2 linked regions of the Homo sapiens genome follow. The protein of the gene in region 1 purifies or fractionates together with the protein of each later gene. This does not show direct contact. Each region holds a gene or a part of one and is shown in the gene's direction. Other genes may lie near its edges.

The links.
Region 2: the proteins of CDH4 (region 1) and PCDHGA6 purify together in Homo sapiens (co-immunoprecipitation; one large-scale study listed by IntAct). This does not show direct contact.

The regions. Positions count from the first base shown.
Region 1 is NC_000020.11:61,250,722-61,255,253, forward strand, and holds the start of CDH4 (cadherin-4 isoform 1 preproprotein), read left to right. Parts: upstream 1-1,539; 5' UTR 1,540-1,792; coding exon 1,793-1,849; intron 1,850-2,876; exon of another isoform or gene 2,877-2,966; intron 2,967-3,358; exon of another isoform or gene 3,359-3,421; intron 3,422-4,104; coding exon 4,105-4,216; intron 4,217-4,532. UniProt on the Homo sapiens protein: Cadherins are calcium-dependent cell adhesion proteins. They preferentially interact with themselves in a homophilic manner in connecting cells; cadherins may thus contribute to the sorting of heterogeneous cell types.
Region 2 is NC_000005.10:141,380,315-141,384,118, forward strand, and holds part of PCDHGA6 (protocadherin gamma-A6 isoform 1 precursor), read left to right. Parts: intron 1-2,427; exon of another isoform or gene 2,428-2,585; coding exon of another isoform or gene 2,586-3,804. Other genes in the region: PCDHGA7 (protocadherin gamma-A7 isoform 1 precursor), read left to right, coding at 2,586-3,804. UniProt on the Homo sapiens protein: Potential calcium-dependent cell-adhesion protein. May be involved in the establishment and maintenance of specific neuronal connections in the brain.

The DNA.
Region 1 (4,532 bases):
CAAGACAAGAGAGCTGTCTTGGTGTCTAAAGCAGTCTTGGACAGCTTCTGATGTCGCTCGAGCAGTGGTGAAGCACCTTGAATAAGGAGGAAAGCAGAGGGGGCGTCTTCCCAAAGGACGGGCACATGGCCGAGGAATGGAATTCTCTGTCCATGAGGATTTTGGATGGATCTGTTCATGAAACCTCACTGGCTACGCAGGACCTTCGAGTGAGTCTAAACCTCCAGCCATGTCAACTGGTAACCTCTCCTTCTTCGGCTAGGTGGGGAGTGGGACAAGGCCATAACTGATAGGAGTCCAGGCTGGGGCAGATTTTGTGTCTCCTGACTAGTTCCATAGTTAAGTTGCAAAACCGAATCTCGCCTTGTGCTCTCGGATGTAGTGCTTACTCTGGTCCTCTGGGGTTATCTAAAATCTGGTTTCCTTAAGCGTAAGGCAGAGCTCTAACCGGGAGACCACCCTGCCCCCAAGGGTGGGGGTTCTGGGAGGGAGAGAGGGAAGCGGCTGCTCTGTAGCTTTCTCTACTGGCTTGCCCAAGTGGACTCTGATCTTGGAGCTCAACAGTGTCACTCAATCTTCCACCCTCTCCTTTGCAACCTATTTCTTAAACCAGAACTAATGTATTCTGGACACAGAGTCCCTGAAACCCCAGACAAAGAAAATTCGATGTATCTGAACAAACAAAACCGCGTTTCTTTAAATCTCCAAGCCAAAAGGAAAAGTGCAGAAACATTTACTCACTGTCCGACCTGTACATATATTTTACCTGATAACCCTTAAAGAAGTGCCCCCCAGTTCAGCCATCACCCATGCAGGGCAAAGGGAGCTGGAGCTGGCCCAGCCTGTCGGCGCAGACACTCCTGACAGCTCCTGTCTGGGCACTTCTTTCTTTCTTGGAGCTTCTAATTTCTTTCTTGGCTTCTGAGGCCTAACAGGGTGTTTTGATGCACACACAGGAATTACTACCGTCCCCAATCCTAGGGTACATCCCTAGCCCAGGCCAGGGCTTTGAGTTTTCCTAGGAGCGGGAGGGTCTGCAAAGCCCCACAGGCTGAAATCTCAGCGTGGCCCTCTGCTCATCTGCTCCAGGTGGAAACTCTCACCCCTGAGCTGCCCGACCTGGGTTCAAGCCCGGGTCAGGGGAGTTAGCAAGGAGACACCTGAAAAATAAAAGGACAGAATGGAAGTGCACACTCCCACCGCGGGCCCGGGCGGGAAGTCGGACTAAGACCGCGGCGGGACCGCCCCATCCAGAAAGGGTGCCCCGGGTGTGGGGGCGGAAACCCCAGCGCTGTCTTCAGTCTCCACACCCGCGCCTTTTTCCCCTGGAAAACGAGCGTCCTTGGCCTCTTCGGCCGCAACCGGGCGGCTCCAGACGTCCAGGAGGGCAGAGGCTGGGCTGGTGCGGCGCGGGGGGCGCGGGCGCGGGCTCTGCGCCTTTAAGGCCCGCGTCGGCAGAGCGAGCGCAGGGGCCGGGCGGCGGGGCGGGGCCTCGGCGGGGCGGCCGCGGCTTCACCTGCAGCTCCGAGCGCGCGGAACAGAGGCGCGGGCGGCTGCGAGGCCGGCGGACGCACCGGCCCGAGGGAACGCGCCGCCGGCCGGACTTGGCCTGGCTCCCGGAGCCGGGGCGGCGAGCGCGGCGGGCGCAGCGGGGCTGGAGGCTCCGGGCAGGCGCGGGGGAGCGGCGGCGGCGGCGGCGATCGGAGCGGCGGCGGTGGTCTCGGCGGCGGCGGCGGCGGCGGCGGCAGGGAGCGGGCTCCCGGTGCCGGGCACCGGGCGGGCGGCGGGGAAGATGACCGCGGGCGCCGGCGTGCTCCTTCTGCTGCTCTCGCTCTCCGGCGCGCTCCGGGTAAGTTGCCGCCTCCCGCCCCCGCCGTTCGGAAGCCCCGGGCAGCGGGAGGTCGTCCCCGGATCCCGCGGGGCGCTCACACACCCGGCGGGGCTCTCCCGGGCTCCCCCGCCGCGCTCCCCGCTGCATCCAGCCCGGCGCCCGCGCTCGGCGAAGCTGCCTGCGGTCGGCAGGAGCGGGAAGCCGCCTGGGCAGCGGGGAGCGGCGGAGCAGGGTGGGAGTGGGGCTCGGTGGAGGACCCGGGGAGCTCCGCCTGCACCGGACCCGCCGAGCCTCCCTCGAACGCCCAAAGCCCGTAGCCGCTACCCGGAGCTCGGCTTGCCTGCATGGGGCAGGCTTCCACTGGCGGAGCCGGCGCGCCCTCCATCGCCCGGGAGCCGCGCGCCGCGGGAGTTGCCGAGCCCAGCCCCGGCCGTGGCTGAAGGCGTGGGGCGCCCGGCGGCTGCGGGCCAGGGATCCGCGAGTGCGGGGCGCCTGCCCGACCTCTCCTGCCCAAGGCCTGGGGGTCCGTCTAGCGGCGCCGCTCAGTTCTGTGGGTGCCGGCAGGACCCGCGCTGCGGGTGGGCGGCGGGGTAGGACTGCGGGGCACTCTCACCCCCGAGCCCTCGGCGGGGCTGGAGCCTGCGTGTCCGGCGGGGCCCCGGGGGCTGGGAGCTGGGCCGGGCTTGGGCCGGGAAGCCGGACGCCGGGCGGGCGCGGCGCGGGAGGGCGCCCCGGGAGGGCGAGCGGGTCTCCCGCTGCCTCTGCAGAGCCCCGCGGGCCGGATTGCCAGCTTTGCTCTGCGCCTGGCGAGGTGCGCGGCCCGCGGGGGCAGAGAGCGCGGCGGCTCCGGGGGCGCCCCTGGGCGGAGGCGGAGGGGCGGCGGGAGTTGCAGGAACCCCCTCTCGTGGCCGATCGGCCTCGCTGCCTTCTCCCGGGCAGCGCTGTTGTAACCTCGGAAATAAACAAGTGCCAGCGGCGGGAGGCCCGCTCCGAGGCCGCGGGGCGCTGGGGGACGCGCTGGGCACACGCTTCGGGCGGGCGGAAACTTTCCTGGGCGAGTTGAGCCTCCCACCGGGCTGCGGGTGCGATTTGGAGCTTCGTGGCCGATGAAGAAAGCCGCGGTTTAGAGCTTTTCGTAAGGAATGACCCTGCGTCCCGCTCTCCTCCCTCGGTGCTGGGGGTAGAGGGGCGCCCTCCGCGGTGCCGGCGTCGGGAAGCCTGGAGCTCCGGGCTGGGGGCGGCCTCCGGAGTCGAAGCATGGGCGGGCGACGGCAGCGCGCGGAGCTGGAGGAGGCGGCGGGCGGGAGGCGCCACTGCCCGGTGCGGGCTGCACCCGAGGCTTCCTGCGCTCGCCGGGGAGCCAAGCACCGCTGTGCTCCTGCTCCTTCAGCGGGGCTGGCTTCCCGCTTGCACACACTGCCTCTCCCTCCACCACCTCCTCCTGCCTGTCACGCCCCCTCCCAGAAGCTTGGTCGGAGGGCCCTGTCGTCCACCCCATCCTTCCCTGGCCCTGTGCCATGGGCTCTAGACTTCCCCACTGAGCAGGAAAGGCGAGCGAGCTCCGGAGGACAGGAGGAGACCCCCTTTCCGGTCAGTTAGGGGAGCCGTCTCCCTGCCTGGGCTGGAGATGGGGGCTCCGAGGGTGAAAATGCGGGCTGAAGACTAGAAGGTGGAAGCGCCCCCACTGCCTCCTCACCCCAGCCACCGGCAGCCTCCCGCAGAGCTGCCTTCTTCGACCGGCTCCGGACCTAGTCCTAGAGAATCTTCTTCCTTTCTCTCCTCTTTCTCCTCCCTCCCGGTGACCTGGAGAGGAGACAAGAAGCTGCCTCCTCCGCCTTACCAAGAGCGCAGAGCGGTGGGCCTAAAGCGCGAATGGTCTGAGCAGAGCCGCCCACACTTTGGCCTCCCTGCCCTTAGTGGCTTCGGGAGCAGCGGCTGAAGTCTTCTGTCTCTGCCTTTTGGTCATTTCTCAGGCGTCTCCTCTGCCAATAAGGCCCTGGCCGGCCTGGCTTCCCCAACAGTCCGTCCTTCACTCCCTGCCTGCTGTGTGTGGGGCTGGGGAAGGATGCTCCTGGTCTGTAGCCTGGAGAGTGCTCCCTAAAGTCCCCAGAGAGCAGAGGAGCAGACGGGGTATCGCGTCTGGGTGGAGACGGTGGCCTGCCAGCCTTTCTCTCTTAGCCAGAGACCTTTTACACAGCAGGCCCTGGATGAATGTTGGTTGGATTAAATTTCTGTGAACTTATTGTTTTACACTCTCCCCTTTGTGTTCTCAGGCCCATAATGAGGATCTTACAACTAGAGAGACCTGCAAGGCTGGGTTCTCTGAAGATGATTACACGGCATTAATCTCCCAAAATATTCTAGAAGGGGAAAAGCTACTTCAAGGTAAGGCGGGGTGTGGAGGGGTGGGAGTGAATTGCTGCCATGCTTTTCCTTGGGGAAACATGTAGATGGGAGAGGCAAGGCTTGCCTCATCTTTGTGCTCTCTGTGAAATGATGGTGGTGAAGTCCACGAGGTGCAAATTGGTTGACCTGAAAGGCGTTTTGCATAACAGGTGAATGATTCAGAACCCCGGTCATTTTTGAGTGAAGTGAATCATTTCCTGGGCAGCAAACTGTAATTCGGATGTAACATCACCCAAATAGTGTGCAGAGAGAGACCTTCTTACCAAGTATTTTTATGCATGAAGTTCTGGATACT
Region 2 (3,804 bases), on another chromosome or scaffold:
AAATCTAAATGGAACTTCAAAGAACTGTTTTGTTGTTTGTTTTTTAGAAAAAAAAGTCCCAAAAAAGAAAAGAGAGAAGATAATCAATTCGATGCCCAGGAAGCCAAATAGACTTTACATAGAATTCTTTTTAATGCAACCAAACAAATGGTCAGGATTCTTCCCAATATCTCAGTCAACAATAATATACACTCTTTAAACTATGAAATGATTTCAATTTGATACAATGAGCTTATGTTAGATTTTATTAAACATATCTTGGCGGTCTAGTAAAGATCTTTAATATTTAATTTTATGATGTTCGATAACTTAGAAAATGTGAATGCTAGAGACAATGAAGCCATTTACTCCATAGGGTATGTATGCTTTGTGTTCGGAGTAGTCTATAATTTAATTTAACTAGCTCTTATTTCCTTTTCTCCAAAGAAGGTACCAAGACACTATAAATTAATTGAGACTTTTTTAAAACAGTAGAATAAGAAACAAATGTGAGATGAAACTATGAATTTTGAGGCATCAGGTAAAAATGGATCAAGACATTGAGAGCTATAACCTCCAAACATGAAAGTTTGTTTGAAAATATCTACAAGTGCTTACATTGTTTAATAATCATACACTTTGCTTGCCTCAACAAGAAGTTCAAAAGTACTATTAAACAAATAGAATTTAACTCCAGTTTACAGAATTCATCTATAATACCTCTATTAGTTCCTTTAAACAAAATTTATCTACTTTGTGAATGCAAAGATAACTATGGATTATTTTGATAGATCAAAACAGAATGTCCTTCAAAGTGTTCCCTGTATTCTGGAGCAATGCCACCAGAAAGCAGAAATAGGTTACTTAGGAGCCTCCCACAAAACGAAGTTAAGCTTTCTTAGTGTTAGTTCTGGATTCTCCTCCTGGTTCCACCAACTACTCTCCAGGACCTAGAAGAATTTACAAACCAAGACTGTTTCTTGCCAGGTCTTTATTCCAGAGCAGGTCATTCTCTTTTATTCTGCAACTATGTGAAAGGAGCTTTCTTTTCTTTCTGCTAGCAGAGGGTAGCCTCGGATCCATCAATAATTTAGTTTTACTCTATCAACATCAGTGGAGAGACGAGTACCTCTAAGGATCCTGTCAGGACAGTCCTGCATTTTGCTCAAATGCTGTCTAGAGATCCCTGTTTTCTCAATTACACTAGAATAGAGTAGGATGAAGATTTGAATTGCATACTAGGATGAAGACTTGAATTGAATTGCATAATGAAAAGAATCAGCCAATCCATTATCCAGTTTCTTATGAATTCACAGCCCAGTAGGATCTCTGCAGATTTCTGCCTTCTGTAGAAAATGGGTTGCTTCTATAGCTGATTGCTGCAGCCAAGACAAACAACGATTTCTTTCTTTTTTTCTCACAAGACTGGGAGTGAGAATATTTGGATTCCGACATTGTTCTACTACTATATAATCAATAATCAGGAACAAGGCAAGGCAATTCCCTCTTTCTTTCTTTCTTTCTTTCTTCTTCTTTTTTTTTTTTTTTTTTTTTTGGCAGAGTTTTGCTCTTGTTGTCCAGGCTGGAGTGCAATGGTGTGATCTCGGCTCACCACAACCTCCACCTCCCGGGTTCAAGCGATTTTCCTGCCTCAGCCTCCTGAGTAGCTGGGATTACAGGCGCGCGCCACCACGCCCGGATAATTTTGTATTTTTAGTAGAGACGGGGTTTCTCCATGTTGGTCAGGCTGGTCTCAAGCTCCCGACCTCAGGTGATCCGCCCGCCTCGGCCTCACAAAGTGTGGGATTACAGGCGTGAGCAACAGCACCTGGCCCCCCCTCTCATTTTTTAAACGGTTAAAATGAAGGTGTTAGACCGTCTCTAAGGTTCTATACAATCAAAAATTTATTAAAATAGGTCTATATATTTTACAACAATTTTGACTTTCTGAATCTTGCATCATGGTGTCTAGAACATATGTGTTCAATTAATACTGAATTAATTAAAATTTATATACACTGATGTAAATATTTTCTAAGTAAAATCTTTCATATGTATTTAAATAAAATTTACCTTTTTGCCTTCAATAACTGATTTTCCCATGTGCAATAACGTGTGAGTCAGTGCCCAAAAGAGTCACTTGAAAGTTGCAAGGCAAAGCAGTTTTTTAAAAATTATCTAAGATTATCAAACACCGGTCCATGAACACTGTTGCATTAATTCAGTGTCTTAAAATGGATTTTTAATTATCAGGGATATCTAGAGCAAAGAAATCTAACAGGGAAATTTTGAAAGATGAAACAATTTTCTATGAAATCAGTGTATTGTGTGCATCAATGTGGTGCAGTAACTTAGTAAGGACTCACAGCGCCGCTGTTCACCAACCAGGGAAAAATGGTGCGAGAGATCCCACAGAAACCACCGAGTTTTACAGCACAGAGAAACGACAGATTGCGATAAGCCCTCTTCCAGGCTGCACTAAACTCAAGCCTCTATCCTGCTGGATTCTGAGCTCCCCTTCCTAAGACAGAGGGGTCCACCCGGATACACCCGCATTCTGAAGCACTTCCCGAGATCGGCGCCTAAGCAAGAGAAGCAGGACGACTATGGCGGCTCAGCCGAGGGGCGGGGACTACAGAGGATTCTTCCTGCTCTCCATCCTCCTGGGGACCCCCTGGGAAGCCTGGGCAGGACGTATTCTCTACTCCGTGTCGGAGGAGACGGACAAAGGGTCCTTTGTGGGAGACATCGCCAAGGACCTGGGGCTGGAGCCCCGGGAGCTGGCGGAGCGCGGAGTCCGCATCATCTCCAGAGGTAGGACGCAGCTTTTCGCCCTGAACCAGCGCAGCGGCAGCTTGGTCACTGCGGGCAGGATAGACCGGGAAGAGATCTGCGCTCAGAGTGCGCGGTGTCTGGTAAACTTTAACATCCTGATGGAAGATAAAATGAATCTTTACCCTATAGACGTGGAAATAATAGATATTAATGACAACGTTCCAAGATTCTTGACGGAAGAAATAAATGTAAAAATAATGGAGAATACAGCTCCTGGGGTTCGGTTTCCGTTAAGCGAGGCTGGGGATCCAGATGTGGGCACGAACTCCCTCCAGAGTTACCAGCTCAGCCCCAATCGCCACTTCTCCCTGGCTGTGCAAAGTGGAGACGATGAAACTAAGTACCCGGAACTGGTGCTGGAGCGGGTGCTGGACCGGGAGGAAGAGCGGGTTCACCACCTGGTCCTCACAGCCTCTGATGGCGGCGACCCGCCCCGATCCAGCACCGCCCACATCCAGGTGACAGTGGTGGATGTGAATGACCACACGCCTGTCTTCTCTCTGCCTCAGTACCAAGTAACTGTCCCCGAGAATGTGCCAGTGGGTACAAGACTGCTCACGGTACATGCTATCGACCTGGACGAGGGAGTCAATGGGGAAGTGACATATTCTTTTCGGAAAATAACTCCTAAACTTCCAAAGATGTTTCATCTGAACTCGCTTACAGGAGAAATATCAACTTTAGAAGGATTAGATTATGAAGAAACTGCCTTCTATGAAATGGAGGTTCAGGCTCAAGATGGTCCTGGTAGTCTGACAAAGGCAAAAGTACTGATCACAGTTTTAGATGTAAATGATAATGCTCCAGAAGTGACTATGACGTCTTTAAGTAGCTCAATCCCTGAAGACACACCTCTTGGGACAGTCATTGCTCTTTTCTACCTACAAGACAGAGATTCTGGAAAGAATGGTGAGGTGACCTGCACCATTCCAGAAAACCTACCTTTTAAATTAGAAAAATCAATAGATAATTATTATAGATTGGTCACAA